Linked DNA regions of Homo sapiens: region 2 is linked to region 1. Evidence: fine-mapped expression QTL. Tissue or cell type: whole blood. Region 1 holds a variant in brackets; the other region holds the start of a gene. All regions are shown on one strand. Distances are from middle to middle.

Region 1 (5,375 bases):
CCTCCCAGGTTCACTCCATTCTCCTGCCTCAGCCTCCAGAGTAGCTGGGACTACAGGCACCCGCCACCACGCCCGGCTAATTTTCTTGTATTTTTAGTAGAGAAGGAGTTTCACGGTGTTAGCCAAGATGGTCTCTATCTCCTGACCTCATGATGCACACGCCTCGGCCTCCCAAAGTGCTGAGATTACAGGCGTGAGCCACCGCGCCTGGCCATACTTTTTGTTTCTCTGATATAAATGTTCAAGAGTGCAATGATTACATTATAACACATATGCCTGTTTAGTTTTGTAAGGAACTGCCAAACTATTTTCCAAAGTAGCTGTGCCATTTTCCTTTCCTACCAGCGATATACGAGCAATCAGTTTCTCTGCATCCTTGGCAAGATTTGGTATTATCTCTATATTTCATTTTAGCCTTTCTGTTAGGTGTGCAGTGAGATCTCATTGTGGTTTTGTACACTTCAGTGTCTTCAGGGTCTGAAGTGATATTCCCTGTTTTACTCATGATATTGGTAACTTGTGTCTTGATTCTATATTTGTTTGTCTGTGTCGCTAGAGGCTTGTTAATTGTATTATTCTTTTCAAAGAATTGACTTTCTGTTTTGTTGGTTTATTCAATTGTTTTCTGCTTTTAATTTCTTGGAATTTTGCTCTAGTTTTATTATTTCCTCCTTATGCTTGCTCTTAGTTTATTTTGTCCTTTTTCTAGTTTCTAAATATGAGATGATTGATTTGAGACTTTTCTTTTTTTCTAATATAAGCATTTAGTAGTAGAAATTTTCTTCTCAGTGTTGCTTTAGTTACATCCCACAAATTTTGATATATTGTTTTTTCATTTTCATTCAATTTAATGTATTTTGTTTTCTTTGGGACTTCCATTTTTTTGAGATGGAGTTTCACTTTGTCACCCAGGCTGGAGTGCAGTGGTCCCATCTTGGCTCACTGCAACCTCCACCTCCCAGGTTCAAGGGACTCTCCTGCCCCAGCCTCCTGAGTAGCTGGGATTACAGGTGCACGCCAACTCGCCCGGCTAATTTTTGCATTTTTAGTAGAGACAGGGTTTTGCCATGTTGGCCAGGCTGGTCTCGAACTCCTGACCTCAGGTGATCCACCTACCTCGGCCTCCCAAAGTGCTGGATAACAGGCGTGAGCCACCTCACCCGGCTGAGACTTCCTTTTTGACCCACTAATTATTTAGAAATGCATTGCTTAGTTTCCAAGAGTCTAGAATTTTTTCTGTTATATTTATGTTACGCATTGCTGTTTTGATTCTATTATGACCAGAGAACACATTCTGTATGATTTCAATTCTTTTAAATTAGGCAAAATTTGTTTTACAGATGCCAGATACATGATGTTTTGTGATGAATGTTCTATGAATTCTGGAAGGGATGTGAACTCTGCTGTTGTTGAAAGGAGTGTCCTATAAATGCCAATTATATTCTGTTGTTTGGTGGTGGTGTTGACTTTATATGATTACTAATTTTCTCTGTATTTGGTCTATCAACTGTTGAAAAAAGGGCTGAAGTCTCTAATCATAATTGTGAATTTGCCTATTTTTCCTTTCAGTTCTATCATTTTTTGCTTCACATATTTTACAGCTCTGTTTTATGGTGCATCCACATTTAAAATTGCTATATCTTTTTGGTAGACTGATTCCTTTATCACTAATGATTGTCTCTGTCCCTGGTAAACATTTTGTTATGAAGTATACTTTATATGATTTTAATATAGCCATTTCTGCTTTATTTTAATTGATGTTTGCATGATATATTTTTCTGTCCTTTTACTTTCAGTTTATCTATATTGTTATATTTGAAGTTATTTTCTTGTAGACAACACATAGTTATGGTTTTTAATCCATTCTGCCAATCTCCATCTTTTAATTGCTCTACTTATATCATTTACATTTAATGTGATGATTAAATTTTCAGTGCTTCAGCCTGACATTTTGGTTTCTGTGTTCTTGTTGTTATTTTTCTGTTTCTCTTTTTTCTTGACTTCTTGAGGGTTACTTTGAATATTTTTTAGAATTCCATTTTGATTTATCTTGAGGTTGAGTTTTTTTTAGTGTATTTATTTGTATAGTTTTTTTAGTGGTTCTTGTAGGTAGTAGATTATGCGTATATAATGTGTCAGTCTATTGGTATTATCATTTTACCAGTTCAAGTAAAGAACAGAAACTTCATCTTCCTTTATTGTACTCCATTTATAATATATTTGTCTTAAATATTTTCTCTATGTACTTTATAAACGTACAACAGTATAGTTTTTCTTCAACTATCAAATACAATTTCCAAAAATTAAGAGGGAAAGGAAAGTACATTTGATTTTGCACTTTCTATTTTTCTTTGCTCTAAAACCTTTTTTTTTCAATCATCTCTTCCTGTTTAGGAAAATAAATAATTTATCTTCCTGTTTAGGAAAATAAATCATTAAATCATCCTTTAAAATTAGGTCTGCTGGCAATAAATTCTCTTAGTTTTTTTTATCATAAAATATCCTGATTTCTCCTTCACTCTCAAAGGTTTTTTTCACTGACTATAGAAATCTGGGCTAATAATTTTTTCTTTTGGCAATGGAAAAATATTGTTCCACTTTTTTCCAGCCT[C/T]GTGGTTTCTGATGAGAATTTCACTGTCATCTCAATTGTTTTCCCCTTGTTGATAAGATTTTTTTCTCTCTCCTGGTGTTTTCTAAGATTTTTCTCTTTGTCTTCAGTTTCCAGAAATATCATTATGATGTGTCTTGCCATACAGTCCTTTGATTTTTTCCTGTTTGACATTTTCTCAGCTTCTCAAGCCTATAGGTTTATGTCCTTTGCCAAATTTGGGGAAATTTTACCCATTTTTTGAATACTTTTTCAACCACACCTCTCTTTCTTCTCTCCTTCTGGGACTCTGTTAGCATAAATCTTGAATTAGAGTTTCCACAGATCCCTAAGACTTTGTTTATTGTTTTCAGTCTATTTTCTCTGTTTTTCAAGTTGAGTAATCTCCATTGTTTTATTACCATTGTCCTATGTTTAAGTTCAAGTTCTTTCCTCTGTCATCTTCTTTATACTGATAAGCCTATCCATTGACTTTCTAAATTTCAGTTCTTATATTTTTCAGGTCTAAAATTTCTAGTTCATTCCTTTATATATATTTTTTTCTTTTCATTAATTCTTTCTTTTTGCAGAGTCTTTCTATTGATTTGCTGGTACTTTCCATTTTCTTCAAATGCTTCAAACTTATTGAAAGATTTTTATAATGGCTGCTTTAAAATCTTTGTCATGTAATTCCCACATCTATTTAATCTTGGCATTATTATCTGTGATTGTCTTTTCTCATTCAACGCAAAATTTTTCTGTCTTTGTATGATAAGTAATTTAATATTATATCTGGACATTTTGGCTATTATGTTATGAGACTCTGGATCTTATTTAAATTATTTGCCTTAGCAGGCCTCCTCTGACATTGCGCCAGTAGGAAAAGAGGACACTACCTTATTACTGCCATGTGGCAGTGAAAGTACAGGTTGTGCACTTAGCTGCAGTTGATGCCCCAGGAGAGGCTCTTTTCCTAAGCGAATGTGGGAGTTCGGGCTCCACTCTCTTCCTCTACTGACACCATTCTGACTTGGAGTGGGGATAATGTCTCAATTTTGCTTTGGACATAACCTCCACTGACACTGTCAGGATGAGGTTGGGTCTTAGGGAGGGAATAAAAGTTCTCACGTCCCACTCCATTTTCATAGATTCAACCACAGTGATGAAGGGGGCAATATGTTGCAACTTCACAGGCATGGAAGTTTTGTCTCCCCAGTCTTTCTTTGCTATTAGGAGTGTGGAGACAGTCACAGTTTTGTCCAGTGTTTTGCTAGTATAGGGAGAAATGTTATTGTCTAAAAGATTTTTTTCTCTTACTAAGCTGACCCTTTTCTTGTTATTTGACTTGAGATATAAGGCCTTTCTTAGGGCTTTTTACTTATTTATTTGGTCCAGACCCATTGGAGTTTCCAGGTTCCTGATTTTCTACCACACATTAAGGGATATGAAGCAAAAAGAAAATCCAGGGAAGTCACCACCGTGTCATTCTTCAGGTCCCAAGGTGCCTACTAGTTTGCCTTCTTTCCTCCACTTTTCAAATTCTTCCAATGTTTGTTCAATATATGATGTCTGAGGTATTAAGTTTCCTTAGCAGAGGCAATAGAGAGAAGTGCATCTACTCCATCTAATTCCCAGGATAGAGTGAATTTCTCTTGTTATGGTTTTAAATTGCATTTTCCTAATTGCTAGTGATGTAACACATCTTTTTATGTACTTATTTGCCATCTGTATATCCTCTTTGATGAAACACTTCATCAGGTTGTTTGCCAGTTTTCCCTTTTTTTTTTTTTTTTTTTTTTTGAGTTAGGATCTCGTTCTGTCATACAGGCTGGAGTGCAGTAGCGTGATCATAGCTGACTGCAGCTTTGAACTCCTCGGCTCAAGCAATTCTCTCGCCTCATCCTCCCAAGTAACTGGGACTAGAGGCACATGCCACCATGCCTAGCTAATTTTTTTATTTTTTGTACACAGGGTATTGCAATATTGTGCAGGCTGATCTTGAACTCATAGCCTCAGGTGATCTTCCTACCTCGGCCTCCCAAAGTGATGGGATTACAAGCATGAGCCATTCCATCCACCCTGATTTTCTAATCAGTTTATTTAGTTGTTTTCTTTTTCTTTTACTGTTGAGTTCAGATGGTCCTTTGTATTTTCTGGACACAAGTCTTTTGTCAGGTATATGGTTTGCAAATATTTTCTTTTAGTCTGTGGCTTGATTTTCATTCTCTTAATAGAGCCTCAAGAGAAAAAGTTTTAAATTTTGATGAAGGTAATTTCTTAACAGCTTTGAATACTCAGACTATTAAAAAGTTCTCCTACAAAAGTGCCTTAATTGAACACATGGCAGAAAGAATTGTTAGAGATGTTTATAATGCCCTGAGAAGGCTCTGGATCATAAAATAGTCATTAAGTGACCATTCCCCTAAAAGAGAGCATGGGCTGTGAGATAGGTTTTCTGAGATATCTATTACTTACTAGCTGTGTGACCTTAACAAATTACTTAACTTATTTGGATCTCAATTTTTTCATCTTTGAAAAAGGAATGATAATTGTAACAACTATATCATTATTATAAGTTAGAATTTTAAAACATGTATTAATTTTTCCAGAGAACATTAAAATTGTTTTTCAGAGTTGAAAACACAGCTGATTGAAATTTGAATATAAATGTTTTTAAAATTTAAATTAATTCTGTAATTTTTCACTTTAAAGATATTCTAATCTCCCCTCAGAATTGGTTATGCCACTCCATTGATTCAAGTTTTCTTTTATATTTTTTAGTAAATCA
Region 2 (5,375 bases), 110 kb after region 1:
CACTAGAACTAATGCTGCATCCCCAGAAAAGCATCACTTAGAAATTAAACAGCTGGCTGTCTTCCAGGGAAACGTGTCCCTGTGTCCTGCCTTCCTGAGACTTCTTGCCTGCACGCGGGGCCCAGCCGCGCCAGAGAGATGGAAGTGACTTTACCTACCCAGCGAAAGTAGCAGTCTGCAACAAGGAAAACAGCTAAGTTAAGAGGAAGTGGTTTTCATTTTACTGCTTGCAGAAAGGCCAAGATTTTGACGTTTAAAGCGGGCACACGAGTCATTTTAAGTCTCTAGATCTTTCACCCTGAAAGTCCCTGCACAGAAACTCCATAGGGAGTCTAAATATAGCAACAGCACCCCCTCCCGCCCCCTCCGCCTTCAGTCAGGGTCCCGCGCAGCTCTAGGATTGGAGAGCTTACTCCAGGGCGCTCTCTGCATCTGCCTCGAATAGCACCGCACGGAGCAACCTCTCTCGCACCTCCACAGTGCGTGGGTGTGAAGTGTATTAGGGGAAAGCTAGAGAGTGACTCTGGGTGATGGTGCTCGGCTCACAGTCACATGGCGTCGCCGCCAGCTGCACAGAGCTCCCAGCTAGCTTCTGCTGCCCAGAGGCTTGGGGGGAAGGAGGGAGGGAAGCAGGCTCCTGCTGGTGACCAGGAGCAGGCGAGAGGGCTTCACACAAATAATAGTGATAATAAAGAGTAAAAGCAAAGCATTTAAATCGAGCTATTGCAGAAGACAGAAATCAGCTGCCGCGGGCGTGGGTGTGTGTACAGGGTGGGGGAGAATTGGGAAAGTATTTATCTCGGAGGGGCGGAGACAGCTGCAAGAAGACTTTTGTCTTAGCATTGTTTTAGCCTTAGGAAAGGAAAAGGCCCGAAGGAATCCACCTTGCAACTATCTGCTATGTCTTTGTGGTGGAAGCTTAGTTTTGCCTTCAATTTAATTTGATGATTTTCTTTCATATTTGGGGAAGAGCCACTCTGTTGGAAGAAGTCCCCGAGCCTGGCACCCTTCAGTTTTCCCTATGCTGAATGTGAGATTTAAACTGCCTTTTCTTTGTAATACACTGTTTCTGAAGGCCAGAGGCTGCGGCCAGTGGCACCGTGGCCTCTCTCTCCGCCAAGGGCGCATAGGCTTTGGGCCACCCGGGTGCCAGGGGTGGTGGAAGACCCAGTCAGTTGTTCCTTGCAACAGGTCTCTAAGCTTGTATGTTACAACATAAGGTGGGTGGGGTCGGAACCCCGAAAAGCCGGCGTCCTGGACACCCCATCCTCCAGGTGTTCTTTCCCAGACACTGGGTCCTCGCCGCCGCTGCTGAACTTCTCAATCATATGACTTTCTCGGACTTAAATGGAAATTTCTTGACGGAGGGAACTGGGTTTGTTCTCCCAGGCTTCGCGCTGCAGTCAGGCAGAGCCCCGGGGCAGCTCGCTCACCGCGGAGGAGCCACTTTGGAGTTTTACGCCCTTTCCACACCCCACCCATGGACTGGAAAGGATGTTCAGTTACTCGCGAGCTTGTCTGATACTGGGATGGAAAGTCACAGTCCGCAGGCTGGAGTGAGGCGCGGGAAGATGCCTGGTCCTTGCCTCGCGGACTTGGCAGCCGCGTCCTGCGGGTCTGTCCACTGAACTGCTGAGGACTCGCCCGTGTGCGGGGACCCGAGTGCCACTTCCCGGAGCGTTACCTTGCGCTCCAGCCTCCAGGCTAGATAATACCTGGAAGGCAGGGCAGGGCTGTTCCCGCTCTCACCCCTTGCGGAAGGATGGCAGGATCCGGCGCAGCGACGTAGCAGCGGGAGGGCACAGCGACCTGCATCTCCAGTTTCTCCTCAGGACACAAGGCTGACTTCACCTTCCGGACAGCTGCAAAGCCCCTGCCAGAACCAAACCGAACTCGCGCCTCGGAGAGGGGCTTCTGGGGCCGTTTCGCTGCAGGGCGTGGGGAGTGGAGAGAGGGAAGGGGAAGCCTGGGGCTGGGTGTGCGCGCGTGGGAGCGCGCCTCGGAGCGCCCCGCACTCCCCCACTCTATCCCCGGGGGCAGTTTGGGAAGGAGGGAGTGGTAGTCGCGGGAATGAGGGAGCAAGAGAAACCCTCTCAAAGTGACGCCCCAAACAGGTCCGGATTTAGAATTCGAAGCTAAAGGCTGTTAGAAATTGGGACTCCTCGGCCTCCTCTGCAGCCCCTCCTTTCCCGCCCCGAAGCCCGGGCGGTTTGCTGGCTGCCTGCTTCCCCGCCCCCGGCTCAGAGGTCTCTGGCTGGCGGGCGCCCCGTCGGCCGCCGGCTTCCTCCTTGAAACCCGCCGGCGCACATGAGGCCGCTGCCCCCGCCGCAGGCGCTGGCGGCCCCCTCGCGGTGCCCGTGGTGATGCCATGCCCCGCCACCACGCGGGAGGAGAGGAGGGCGGCGCCGCCGGGCTCTGGGTGAAGAGCGGCGCAGCGGCGGCGGCGGCGGGCGGGGGGCGCTTGGGCAGCGGCATGAAGGATGTGGAGTCCGGCCGGGGCAGGGTGCTGCTGAACTCGGCAGCCGCCAGGGGCGACGGCCTGCTACTGCTGGGCACCCGCGCGGCCACGCTCGGTGGCGGCGGCGGTGGCCTGAGGGAGAGCCGCCGGGGCAAGCAGGGGGCCCGGATGAGCCTGCTGGGGAAGCCGCTCTCTTACACGAGTAGCCAGAGCTGCCGGCGCAACGTCAAGTACCGGCGGGTGCAGAACTACCTGTACAACGTGCTGGAGAGACCCCGCGGCTGGGCGTTCATCTACCACGCTTTCGTGTGAGTACCCGCGCCCCCTGCTATGCCCGCTGCAGGGGACCACTGTCCCTGGCCCCCTGGGGCGTGCTCCGCGCTCGCGCCCTTGGGCCCCCGCGCGCGTGCACACGTGGTGGCTTTTATTTCTTCGCACGTGTTCGTGGTCTTCCTTCTGGAGCCTCTCCCCTCCCCCAGCCCCACTTCTCTCATCTCTACAGCTTGAACCTTTTCCCCGAGGACACCCAATGAACTGCCCGGTAGCTTCAGGCTCCCGGGGCGAGAGCCAGGCAGACGCGGGACTTAGGCTGCGCGGATAATTGGGAGCAATTAGGTCCCAAGATACGTAAACTTCAACCGAACGGGGCGCCCGGGAGCTAGGGAATGCAAAGGGAGGACAGGCGCCCGTGTGAGGCTTGAGAGTATACTGGAGAGGTTAGGAGGTGATGGCGGGGTAGGACGGGGAGAAGTGAGGGGGCATCGAGGGCTAGGTCCTCAGTCCTAGGGGCGGAGTAGGGGAAGCTGCTACTTGGAGAGAGCTGCTAGGTTTTAAGCGCGCCCGGAAACACGCCTCGCCACCACCCAGCCACCACCAACGGAAAATCTGTCAGTGCATGTAGCCCTTCCTGCCACGGAGAAGGTGGCCAAGGTCTAGAGGAGGCCAGCAGGCCAGGCGAAGCAACGCTCCCGCGCTGCAGGGGGCGGGGAGGCAGCGGGGAACCTGGGGCGCAGGAACGCGGGCGGAGGTGCGATAGCAGAAGCGCAAATGGGTCGCCTCTGACAGAGATCGGGCAGTGGGTTAAGTCCCCGTTTGTGGCGCGGAGTCAAAGAGTGTGTGTGTGTGTGTGTGTGTGTGTGTGTGTGTGTAGTAAGCCTTCTCCATCTAGCAGAGAATGCTTAATGAGAAAATGATTGGAAGCAAATGTTTATTTTTCCCTTAGGCATTTAAAACCTTTCAGTGGCTTTAAAGTTTACTACTGTTTTTCCCACAAAGTCCATTCATTCAGTCTCCTATTAGAGTTACGTTTATCTGGGCATTTTAAGGTTGTTTTTATAATGTTACCTCGTGTCTAATTCTTTTTTTCTTCCTCTTCTCCTTTTGCTTCCTCTTTTTTTAGTATTATTATTTCTGCTTCTTTTTTGTTAAGATGAAATATAAAGACATCAACCTTAGAAGACCAGTAGAGAAAGTTGCAGATACTCGCTGATACATTCCTTGTTTCCTAGTAAAATAAGTTTTGAGCACACGGACTAGGTTTCTTTTAGAAATAAGTTATGTCATCCATACATAGCTCTCTCCTGGGATGCAGAATTAGCATCAACACCAGAAACGTGTTTTGAAATAACATGGAAGAAGGGCTGGTTTTGTAACTAGGTGAACCTGGAATTCAACCACATAGGAGTCAGGAAATTGGTGGAGTCTACAATCTGTGGGGCTCTGGTGTCTGGAAAATTTTACAGTCCCAGATTGACGTGAACATGTAGCATTAGGCAGAATATTCCAGCCAACTTTCCGTTTTACAATGCACACAAGGAGAACGGTTGTGTTGCATCATCATTACATCAAAAAGTATAACTTTTATGTAAAATTCACATTTATTTAAATGTGGTTAGGATAATGATAGAGAAATGCAACTGACACTTTTCTCGTTAATCTCCTCTGACCTGATATGTAATTAAACATATTACTTAATAAGCCTGGTAAATTATTTTGACCTGTCAGAATATACTAAAATAATTTAGCAATTATAATGCTCAATTTGGTAGCAAATATATATACTGTATAGGTTATGATTTTTTCTTTACAACAGTATGCTCAAAACATTTCTAGCCTTTCTTTTTTTTATATTATGCATTGTATATTCAGAGAGAGTTAAAGAAAGCCTTGGTTGGTGCACATACTTTGCATCTCCTAACTTGTTCTTGAACATGAATGAGAACTTGCAACACAACATTTTCTTTTCCATGTGTTGGTGTTAACAGGTTTGTATGGGCTTACAGAATTTTAAAACATTAATAAATGATTTTTCCAAAGGTTCAAGGTTGGATACTTCTCTGTCTACCAGGCTTTATCAGTCTAGCAGTATCTTTAGTAGTAGACAGGAAATAAATTGTGTACTTAATAGATGTAGCAAATGTGAAGTTTTGATTATACATTTTAGAGTCTGAAACTGCAATGCCTCAGCAATTAGATAGGGGTGCTATATCCACATTAGCACAAAGAGGGAATGGATAGTATCATCTTTTGGGAGGATTGTGCACAACTAAGCAGACCCTGAGGAAAGAGGCCATCTTTGGCAGTTGCTGCTTGTGATTTTAAATGAGCTTTAGAATAGCCAGACTTTACACATTACATTCATTTATCGAAGTTGCTTTATGCTGTAAGTTTAACTAGACCCCAATAAAATAATTTCGAGAGAGGTGTAACTAACTAATTCCCTGCCAGCTTGGGAATCCCCAAATCTTATTTTAATAACAGTATTTGTAGCATATTAAGGTTCTTGCCAAGAACAAGTGCACCGTGATTAATGAGGTACTTCAGGGGTGAATTTACTTGGTCAACCAGTGTTTTCACTGCCAAGAAACAAGAAAAGCATGTTTAAAGTTATGCTTGAGGTAAATATAAATTTCTATTA

What was found.
Region 2: it holds the start of KCNQ5, and the variant in region 1 is fine-mapped to the expression of KCNQ5 in whole blood (TOPMed, PIP above 0.99).

What each region holds. Positions count from the first base shown.
Region 1 is chr6:72,513,135-72,518,509 of GRCh38, forward strand. No RefSeq gene overlaps it. Among named protein-coding and RNA genes, the nearest start is that of KCNQ5, 110 kb to the right of the region's middle. The variant C/T (reference allele first, on the strand shown) is at 2,612.
Region 2 is chr6:72,619,822-72,625,196 of GRCh38, forward strand. KCNQ5 (potassium voltage-gated channel subfamily Q member 5) reads left to right here and starts at 2,243. Exons shown (of 14, transcript NM_019842.4): 1 at 2,243-2,766. The coding sequence starts at 2,369. KCNQ5-DT (KCNQ5 divergent transcript) reads right to left here and starts at 2,858. Exons shown (of 3, transcript NR_186827.1): 1 at 2,711-2,858. RefSeq lists enhancers at 628-817, 2,928-3,879 and silencers at 2,238-2,497, 3,528-3,577.